Regions from separate parts of the Homo sapiens genome. Here region 2 is linked to region 1. The links come from fine-mapping of genetic effects on gene expression. A gene starts in region 1. The other region holds a variant in brackets. All regions are shown on one strand. Distances are between the middles of the regions.

Region 1 (5,383 bases):
ACTCCTGACCTCAGGTGATCCACCCGCCTCAGCCTACCAAAGTGCTGATATTACAGACATGACCCACCTGGCCTTTTAAAATTTTGTTTTTTAAATAGAAAAAGGCTTATAGAATAAGGAAATAAAGAAATGAAATATTTTTGAACAGCTGTACAATATGTTTGTGTTTTAAGCTGTGTTATTACAAAAGAGTCAAAAGTTACCCAGCCGTGGTGGCATGTGCCCGTAGTCCCAACTACTGGGGAGGCTGAGGCAGGAGGATTGCTTGAGGTTAGGAGGTCCAGGCTGCAGTGAACTGTGATTGTACCACTGGACTCCAGCCTGGGTGACAGAGTGAGACCCTGTCTCAAAGAAAAAAAGAGTCAAAAGTTAAAAAAAATTTATAAAGTAAAAAATTCAGGTAAGCTATGGTTAATTTATTATTGAAGAAAAAATGTTTATGTCTACAGTACAGCCTAAGTGTACATTGTTTACACTACAGTAGTAGTGTAGCATACAGTTATAGCCTACATAACTACAGTAGTGTAGTTATGTACAATAGTATACAGTTATGTCAGTAGTGTAAGGTTACGTACATTACAGTAGTGTACAGTTATGTCCTAGGTCTTCATATTCTCACTCATCATTCGTTGACTCACCCAGAGCAACTTCCAGTCCTATAAGCTCCATTTATGGTAAGTGCTCTATACAGATGCACCATTTTTTATCTTTTATACTGTATTTTTACTGTATTGTTTCAATGTTTAGATATAGAAATACCATTGTGTTACAATTGCCTACAGTACTGAGTACAGTAACATGCTGTACAGGCTTGTAGCCTAGGAGCAATAGGCTATACCATATAGCCTTGGTACGTAGTAGGCTATGCCATCTAGGTTTGTGTAAGTATACTATTATGCTCGCATAACAACAAAATTGCCTAAGGATACATTTCTTAGAATGTATTCCCCTAATTAATCAATGCATGATTATACATAGATAATAATTTCTAAAGGGAGGGGGAATGGGTAACAGTGCATACCTGCTGGGCACCGTGGCACATGTCTATAATTCAAACACTTCGGTAGACCGAGGCAGGAGGATCGCTTGAGTCCAGGAGTTTGAAACTAGCCAGGGCAAGATAGGAAGACCCCATCTTTACCAATAATAATAATAATAATAATAATAATAATAATAATAATAATAATAAAAAATTAGCCAGTCGTGGTGCCGCATGCCTGTGGTCCCAGCTACTTAGGAGGCTGAGGTGGGTGATGGCTTGAGGTCCCAGGAGGAGGTCGAGGCTGCAGTGAGCCATGATGGCGCCACTGCACTCCAGCCTGGGGGAAAGAGTGAGATCCTGTCTCAAAAACAAACAAACAAACAAACAGAAACCAGTACATACCTGTGCATTGTGTTAGGTGTGGGGGTCAAAGGTGAGCCAGCTTTTGCTCTGACTTCAAGGTGTTTATAATTAACTACAAAAGGGGACTAAGGTATTATGAAGAAGGGAGCTAATAAGCACAATAAGGGACAAATGTGAAGAGTGCTCTGCAAATGTAAAATGCTGCGTTGTGGAGGTTGTTCCAAAACGGGCCTTTAGATTCCGACACCTCTTTCCACACCATTAGAAGTAACAGAAAAAGAAAACAGTCCTTGAGAGGCTCAAGAATGGAGGACACAAATTCCCGGTGGCCACGCGAGCCGGATGACCTTGGAGAAGTTACACAGCCCTTAGCCTTAACCTCCTACCCTGGTAAATGAGAACTACAATATCTACCCTTCTATCGTGCAGATTAAGCAGGTAAAGTAATGGGCAAAGCATCTACTCTTGTGCCTGGCAGGAGTAAGGGCTCAATAAACCTTACTTGTGACTAGCACTAGTTTGCAACTTCTCCGACGGACTGAGAAGGGACATTCTGTGTAGAGTTACTTTAAGGGTCCTACTTAAGGGCACCGCCAAGCCGTCCATAGTTTCCACAAGGAACACTGCAGTCTCAGATTTGCGCTCCTTGCCTGAACCAAAGACAGCAAAATTGAGGTTTTTCTCGTGTAAACGGTGCCCTGGTCTCTTCCGCGTAGATAGGGAGGCGAGCTGCCGCAGAAGCTCCCGCTTAAAGAGGGGAAGCGGAGCACGGGATCTCCGAGGGGTCCCAGGTGCCGGGACTCCAGCAGAAGCCGCCCCCGCGGGAGAGCGGAGGCGGGGAAGTGGGCGCAGGGGGGCGTGGGCGACGGCGTCGGCTGTCAGTGCCAGCAGAGCCAGGGCGGGCACACCTACTCACCGCCCAATCCCCGGCCGTAGCCGCGGCCTTATGAATAAGCAACAAAGCGAAGCGCCCTCCCCCTAGCGTCCCAGACAGCGGAGGGAGTCGCCGCCGCTACCGCCGCCGCCGCCGCAGGGCCCGCCGCTGGGATGCCGAGCGCCCGCGCCGCCGCTGCCTCTGTCCTCCGCGCGCTGCTCAGCTGAAGGCGCACAGGTGAGGACGGGCCCGGCTCCGGCCACTTGGGCGGCCGCGGCTGCAGACGTGGCGCCGGGGCAGGGACGGAACCGGAGCCTCAGTGGCGTGGGGTCGCTCCGCGAGCGTAACAGTCCCGGGAGCGTTGCAGCCCTGGGTGCGCCAGGCGTGCGCCCCGATCCTCCTCCGGAGCGCGGTGCCCAGGTGTGGGGTGCGCGGGGGCAGCTCTGGGCGCGCTGGGCGCGGCGCGCAGGCCTCGGAGGACTCACCGCACTCCTAGCTCCAGCCCAGCCTCCCAGCTCCGCACCAGCGAGCCGGCCTTTGTGCTGGCGGAGCTTGCAGGGCTGGCTGCTTTTGTGTGGGCTTTTCTTTCTCTTTCTCCCTCCGCTCGCAATCCCACAGCAGTGAGAGAGAAGTTCCCGAAAACAACGGTTTACTCCTTTCAAACCGTCGATCGCAGTGTCCCCAATGCCACTCAGAGCCTAACAATCGAGGAGCGAATCGTTGCTGCGGTCACCACCGAAATATGTCCTGCCACTTTGCAGAAAACAAACAGTTGAGTGTTTAGCGCAGAGATGTCGAGCCTCCTTGCTCAGCCCCTGACTCGTCCCCCAGGACGCGGCTGGAGGACGCTCCTTGGAAAGGTCACTTAATTAGAAAGAGGGCCTGCGGGTTAGACCTGGGGGAGGCGAGGCTCTGCTTGAGACTCCGGAATAGTTGGGAGGTGCTGCCGGAGGTGCCCAAATGTCTCATGTGCCTCGTGGTCACTGACAGAATCTGACTTGTGTAGATTCCAAACATGTAGAACCTTGGCTGGCGAGGAGGCAAGCAGGAGTGAACAAAACAGGACCCTTAAGAGTTTGGGTTCTCAAAGATGAGATGATCCCGAGGATCCGCCTAGCACTTGGCATCCAATTTCAGTGCAGAACTGATGTGGAAGAGAGGAGAGATGGCTGCTTTAAAGTGTCTGCCTTCTTTCTTTGGAAGTTTTAGTTTGAAACTTGAGGGGGAGTGGGGAGTGGTTCACAAAACCATCCCTAGGGTTCTGAAGGATCTCTTCTCCAAAGGGCAAAAATTCTTGAGTGGTCAGAATTCACATGCCTTCTCTTTATTTTGGTGTATTTCCTTGATCACAAGTGATGCTGTTGGGCTCCAGGGAGTCTCCTTTTAGCCAAGCATCTACAGTCATTGACTGACTTCGGCACGTATGCCAGTAGAACCCCACAGTAGCATCTATTGAAACACACAACCGGCTAAGGTTTCACAGTATCAGAACATTGCTTCTTTTACACACAGAGGTTTAAAGGTACTCTGACTTGCTCTTATGAATAAAGTGGTTTTTTTTTTGTATTTGTCACAATAATGAACCGAGCACTTGTGCAGCAGACAGATTTGATATTAGTTGAGTTTATTCATAGAAACTCCCAAGGCTCACCAAGTCTAAGGTAGCTACAGCAACGGAGCCAATTAGAGAGATGTGAATTTGTCTTTGTTTTCATGGGAGGCTTCTTACTACATATTCCGGAGTTTCCTGCCAGACCTTTACAATATTATAATTTGGTATTACGGAAATGGTTCGATGCTAAATATAAGTGTAGAATCAAAATGAGGAAAACGGGTTTATCTGCTGTGGAAAATGTCCACTCCCCACCTAAAGGTGTCCTTTGCCCTTTATTCTGTAGATGTTTGTCTGAAAAGTGGTGTATGGAATTGTATTTTTGTTAATTGAACTTAAAAAACTTCTCACATAGGGAAGCTGTCTATGCAGAGGGAAACTGCTTTTAATTTTTGTAAAATGAAAACTCATTCCCTAAGCAAGATGTGAGGTCAATCTTATTTTTCCATATTGTGTTTACTTGGTGATTATAAGAGAAGTATCTGAAGCTAGTTTCAGCTTCCCTTTAAATGTCAGCTACTTAGAGATCTAGCCAAGCAAATGGCTACATTTGTGTACCACAAAAACCAGAAATGATATGTCCAATTGGGTCACTGAAATAAACTGTCTGATGGATGGAGAAGAGTTTGTTGATCAAGATTCATCAGGATAGGATTCTGCAGACAGCAGAACCCTCTCAGGTCACATTGTCTACATGATAAAGCTGAAAGGAGAAGCTCCATGAAAGTACCTTGGGGAAAAAAATGCTACTCCATTTGTGGCTGATGTTACAGATGCTCCAAATTGCTCACATTTCTGTATTTGACAGGAATGCATGTCAGTAGCATGCTAGTATGTCTTCTATTGCATGATAATTTACTTTTGTTTCAAACTGCTTTTATGTCTATTATCACTTTTGTGTGTGTTCTCCACCCTTTGAAAAAATATAACCAGCATTATTATTTCTACTTTGCAACAAGAAAACTTGAGTTTCAGTGATTTGCCTAAGGTAGAACTGGAACTCGAAGAAGCCTGTTTTTAAATCTTCAAGTCCATCTCCTTTTACCAGGGATGAGATGATATGCTAGGGGTGATAAGCACGGATATCTTCATTTGTCTACATCACTAATTTGTAGAGACTGAAGCTCCTGGGCTCAGTATGTAGAACTTAGGTGTGGTCTTCAGGGATGGTAAAGTACTTTTTACTGGTATTTAGTTTCCAGTAATTTAGCTATTTTGACCCCAGCCTACTTACCCTCTTCCCTGCCAGCTCTGGGGCTGCTTTCCTCCTGGGGGACCATGCTTTTCTTTGTGGTTACTTACTCCTTCTCCCTCCTTCCATTGTGATGGAACATGCTGCTGAAAGGATTGTTTGTCATTCAGCTATTTAATTTATGGTGAAGTATAGCTGCAGCCTAGATCCTAAAGCCAATATAACAGACCAGTGATGATTGTCAGTAGCACAGTGAATCAGAAACGTGGTACCTTAATGCCATTTGCCACAGCTGGGTTAATAGAGTGAGAGTCTTTATAAGCTCAGCTTTAAGTAAATACAATAGTATTGGCAATAAAA
Region 2 (5,383 bases), 54 kb after region 1:
TGCCTACTCACCTCTCCACCCATGCCTGCGCCCAAGCAGCTGAATGTGGCTTGAGAAAAACTCACAACCATCTTAACAGGTCTCACTTTAGATATATGATGTCACATCTGAAGTGGGCCTAGAGGGCTGCCTGGCAGTCCTGCCCCATTTCTCTGAGAATGTACTCGCCTACTCTCCAAGACGACTATTTCACGCTTTTTCCTCTCACCTCAAACCACCAACATTTCTCTTTTCCTTTCCAGTTTTTTTATTTGACCGAGAATAAAAGAAATATAAAGATCCCCTACCCACCAAATCTGCCCACCTTCCTGCACCATGCCTGTTTCTCTGCCTTCCCTTTTTCCTACCGTTTCAGGGGAGGATGTATCCAAACCAGCCTGTGCACTGGACCTTGTCTTCTTTTAGTCATTATGAAGAAGCCAACCTGTCCAGTATGCACCAGGCTTAGTTTTAAGTACCTTATAAATTAACTAATGAAATCCTTACAACAGCCTTGTGAGGTAGGAATAATATCAGTTTTACAGACGAGGAGGTTGAGGCACAGCAAAATTCAGCAACGTGTGCAAAAATCACACAGCCGTAATAAATTTGTGTGGCTTCAGAGTCTATGCATGCAGCCACTGTATAATACCATGTCTCCCAGGATATTCTCCCGCAGCTGCTTCTGTCTTTCCTGCCTCATTGATTGCCCCTTTCGATGAGATCTGACCCATTAACTTACAAGCAGGTTCTATTTTCTATATTCTATTTTAAGACCCTACCCTTGACCCTGTGTCTCTCTCCACCTGCCCCCTATTTTCTCTGTTCTCCTTTTAGCCAAATTTCTGGTAAGAATTTTTTGTTTGTTTGTTGTGTCTTCTTTTCTAATCTTTTTTTGAACCACTCCAACCTGGCCTTTGTCTATATCATTCCTCCAAAACAACTTTTGTCAAGGTCCCCCGTGCCCTCCCAATGTCCAAGCCAGAGGGACACCCTCAGTCTCTTACTCGGGCCCTTGGAGACGCTTTCTTCATTTGCCTTCCCTGACACCACACACTTCTTGGATTTTCTCCCACCCTGGTGGTTACTCCTGTTTCCTGTGTGGATCTTCCTCTGCTGGTCACCCTCTAAGTGGTGGCTTTGCCCGGGAATGTGGTCTGGACCATTTCCCTTTCTGTCTATATTCACCTTCTTGATAATCTCAGCCAGTCTCAAGGCTTTGAATATTATTAATAAATTGACAATTCCCAAAATTTATCTCTAGCTTTGAAACTTCCCTAGACTTCCAACATTCCCTTGGATGCCATAGGCCATCACACAGTTACTGTATCTCAAATGCAAATTCTTGTTTTGACTCCTTATCTTTTAGATCCCGTTTTCAGTCATGTGGGATCTTCCTCCTGCATCTCACATTGTACTTATCAGCAGGGTTCTACCTTGAAATTACATCCCCGATATGACTACCTCTCTCCTCTTTCCAGATTGTACCCTAGTCCAAAGCACCATAATCTATTCCTGGTTTTTAAGTGGACTCCTTGTCAGCCTTCTTTTTTCATCTCTTGCTTTGATATAGCCTGTTCTCCACCCTGCTGCTAGAGTCATTCTTTAAAAATATAAGTCAGTACTACCTGTTCCCCAAAAACCTATTGAAATAAATAAAAGACTTAAAAAAAAAAAAAGTCAGATCTGGCCCCTGCCTACTTCTTCCTACCTCATTTCCTGTATTTGCCCTGTGCCTCCCAGCCCAGGCTTCTTTGCCATTGTTTGAACACAGCGAGGCCACACCTGCCTCAAGGATTAGGTCCTTGCCATTTCCTCCACTGGGAATGCTCTTCCTGTAGATGTTGACTTAAATTAAACAAAAGAATGCATTATTTTGGTGTGGCCTCTGTTCAAACTTTACCTTGTCAGAAAAGCTTTCTTTAATCACCCTTTCTAAAATAGCAGTGCCTGGCGTTTTCTATCTTCTTGCCAGTTTTAATGAGAGTGTAGAGTCACCTGCCTATTGGTGTATCTGTTTGTTTGCTGTGAGTCTCCCTGGGTGGCACATGGGCTCCACGAAGGCAGAGACGTTATTGCTTTTATCCCTAGTGTCTGCAACGGCACCCGTTAGGGGGTTGATACATATTTGTTGAATTTTTAGAATAGTGACAGACATTAATCCTACAAAGTTAAAGGACATATAAGAATAAAAAAAGATTAAAGGTGATTTTTTTTAAAAGTTAAAAAGCCTCTGAATGATAGAGGAAAGGTAGTATGGGTGGAGAAAGTTGTGTAGAAGCAGAAAAGGAGAGTCTCACA[A/G]TTCTTGGGTGGCTCCAGTTCTTCTTCTTCCCTTCTTTTCTCCACCATAGGAGGAGAATTACCTGTTGCAGTAACTGCTGTGCCGAGAGTCAAGGGGAGAGAGCAAAGGGAAGGCCTTCTGTGAACTTTGTGGGCACTTACCAGGGGCTTCAGAGGTGCATCCATGGTGAGGATGGGGCCTTGAAGTATTACTAGGAAATTAACATTGGTGAAACAAAATGAAATTGGGAATCATATGTTCCTTAAACCCACTCCACTTGGAGCATTGAAAATGACAGCTTGTGGTGAAGTGCCATGGCTCACGCCTATAATACTAGCATTGTGGGAGGCCGAGGGAGGAGGATGGCTTGAGTCCAGGAGTCTGAGACTGTGGTGAACCATGATCACGCCACTGCACTCCAGCCTGGGTGACAGAGCAAGACTCCGTCTCAAAAATAAATAAATAAATAAATAAAAAATAAAAAAAAAAAAATCAAGAAAACGACGAATTGTGAATGTTAACTCTTACAATGAAGATAATGGTAATTTTTAATGTGCTGCCTTTCTGACCACTCCTGGTGAATATCCCACTTCCCAATTCCTTTAGAGTTGGATTGAGAATGTTGATGCAATTATTTCCAGTTTCTTGGATTACTCTTCCTTAGAGAGAACAAGATCCAAGAGTGAATTTATGTGCTCCTCACTTACCATTTTTGTGAGTTCTACTCACTGATGTGGATGAATAGAAAAAGCTGTGCCAAAATAATGAATTGTCTCCTTTAACATTATGAGCTATAAAGGGATGGGAACAGCTTCTTTTAAGTTCTGTTAGTATTTCACAGTGTGCTAACTGATAAACTTTTAATGATCTCCAGAAAACAGCAAGGGGATGTTTACTACCCTTGTAAATATAAATAACTTTAATAACAAATCATATTACTTGAACTTTGACTCCCAGTAAACATAATACCTGATACTTATCTGACATAACTATGGTTTTGAAAGTTTAAACTCTAGGACATATGGTGGGTGTATAATCCTGCAAAGTTCACATTGTCTGACTTTGGCTATAAAGATGTGTTTCAAAAGGCCAAACAATTATTTTGTAGTGTTTGGATCATTTCCAAGGATTCATTTGTTTCAGCATAAACTCATTATATGTTTATGCTTCCCTTTGATTTCTTTTTGCCTAGAGGGACAAGAAGATGAGGATGAAGAGGATGAAGAAGATGAAGATGAAGAAGAGGAAGATGAGGAAGAAGATGAGGAAGATAAAGATGCAGACTCGCTGGATGAGGGCTTGGATGGTGACACTGAGCTGCCAGGTTTTACCCTCCCTGGTATCACATCCCAGGAACCAGGCTTAGAGGAGGGAAACATGGACCTGTTGGAGGGAGCTACCTACCAGGTGCCAGATGCCCTCGAGTGGGAACAGCAGAATCAAGGCCTGGGTAAGAGTCATGTGTATTTCCCTTTTCCTCCCTTCTCCCCTCCTTTTATATTTCTCAGATGACAGCCTTCTTTCATTGCCATCTATTGTAAAGAAAAATGGATTTTCTTTGTTTATGGGTGGTTTCTACATTTATGGGTGGTTAAGAATATAAGTATAAACTCACCGAAGAAATAACTGATAATTAAAAATTAAAAATGATCACTTATTTCTTCGATGAGTTTATATTTATGCCCTTAAGTAGCCAGGCTCCAAACAGTCTCCAGCTGCCTATTATGAGTACAGTTGCCTGATGTTTGGAAGAAATTCAGTTTTTCCTTCCCAGTTGGGAGACAGTTGTAGGCTTTAGGAGGACATCCGCACAGGGAGGAGATACGTGTAACCAGGATGTTGGACAAGCAGCACCATGGGACAGAGTCGAAGAACAAATGCATTTTTTGTTCCGCTCTGTCCTTTGGGAATCTATTACCTAGGGGAAGTTCTTCCCCTGCTTGTGGGTGAGCAGTTGGGCAGTCCCATGATTTTTCTGTTCAGACTTGTGGCTGCATTACCTTGTCAAACACGATTTCATTTCAGCAGCTAGGGTGGCCAGACCACTCCATGCTCACTCTCTCTTATTCATGGCCCGTGCTTGTGGTGAGAGACTTGGAGGATGCAGGCCGCTCCTCAGCTCAGCACTTCCTTCCACATCGACAGGGAAGCTCCCCAGTCTGTCCCTCTCCTCTTGTCAGGGGAGACGCTATTAAGCTCTCAGTGACTCCTTGAGGCCCTATTCCCTTGACCTGAGGTGAATTAATCTCTTCTCCAAGGAAACTCTTCTCTAAAATGCTCCTAGTCTTTAACAGCTAGGCCCATTGATTCCTTCAGTGTGGCAGATGTTAGGGTTAAGAGTCAGAAAAACTGGTACAAATACTAGTTTTGGGGATATGTCATTGAAAACTTGTAAGTTGGTCTGGGCCTTTGCTCTGGATGTAATTCTGGGAGTTGCACTCTATAGATTGGCATACAGGTTGTAGTTGACATGTAGCTGGGATTTCCTGTGTAATATGCTATAGGAAGGAGAGAAGATAGTAAGGGATGGGCTTCCAGTGGACAGACAAGATTTCTTGAATTACTTTCTGGCCAAATTCAGCATGCATTGGGCAATGATTACTTTAAAAACATGTCACATGAAACTGGTAAAAACTTATAAGGGTATCAAAACATTATAATATCAAAATACTATAAAACAAACACAAAATAAGATTATCTCTGGTCTGTGAACAAGTGAATGAATATTTAGTCTGAAATGCTTCTGTTCTACATGAACAGGTTTGAAATGAATGAAATAAGATACAAAATACAAAGATAATTTATACCGAACAGGTTAAAAACAGACACAAATCTACACGTAAAGTGACTCCTCGGGTTGTGCACAGCTTTATACTATGGAGGTATCATGTACAGTTAAACAGCCTTTCAGTATGGATGGGATGATATTCGGATGCTCTAGTACTTTACCGGAGAGAGGAGCGAGGGAGACAGGGTTGCCTTAGCACAGAATTAGGAACATCATATGGCATCTACCCTGGATTGTGATCAAAGAAATGAAGTCTCACCACTTATGAAGTGGACTTACCATCTTTGAGTAATTATAAGTAATTAGAGGGTCTTAGAAAACTATAAGGAGGCTCT

Which allele goes with the higher level. Positions count from the first base shown, and alleles are read on the strand shown. Sizes are in standard deviations (SD) of each study's normalised expression.
For the expression in breast of the gene that starts at base 2,318 in region 1, allele G in region 2 goes with a higher level than allele A (small effect, 0.37 SD a copy in GTEx).

Evidence for each region. PIP is the estimated chance that this variant, and not a neighbour inherited with it, causes the effect.
Region 2: its variant is the best candidate, but not a certain one, in a credible set for the expression of ARMH4 in breast (GTEx, PIP 0.51).

What each region holds. Positions count from the first base shown.
Region 1 is chr14:58,149,148-58,154,530 of GRCh38, reverse strand. ARMH4 (armadillo like helical domain containing 4) reads left to right here and starts at 2,318. Exons shown (of 8, transcript NM_001001872.4): 1 at 2,318-2,456. RefSeq lists silencers at 2,124-2,193, 2,086-2,380, 2,274-2,493, 2,594-2,783.
Region 2 is chr14:58,095,051-58,100,433 of GRCh38, reverse strand. ARMH4 (armadillo like helical domain containing 4) reads left to right here. Exons shown (of 8, transcript NM_001001872.4): 5 at 3,453-3,710. Among named protein-coding and RNA genes, the nearest start is that of ARMH4, 54 kb to the left of the region's middle. The variant A/G (reference allele first, on the strand shown) is at 2,281.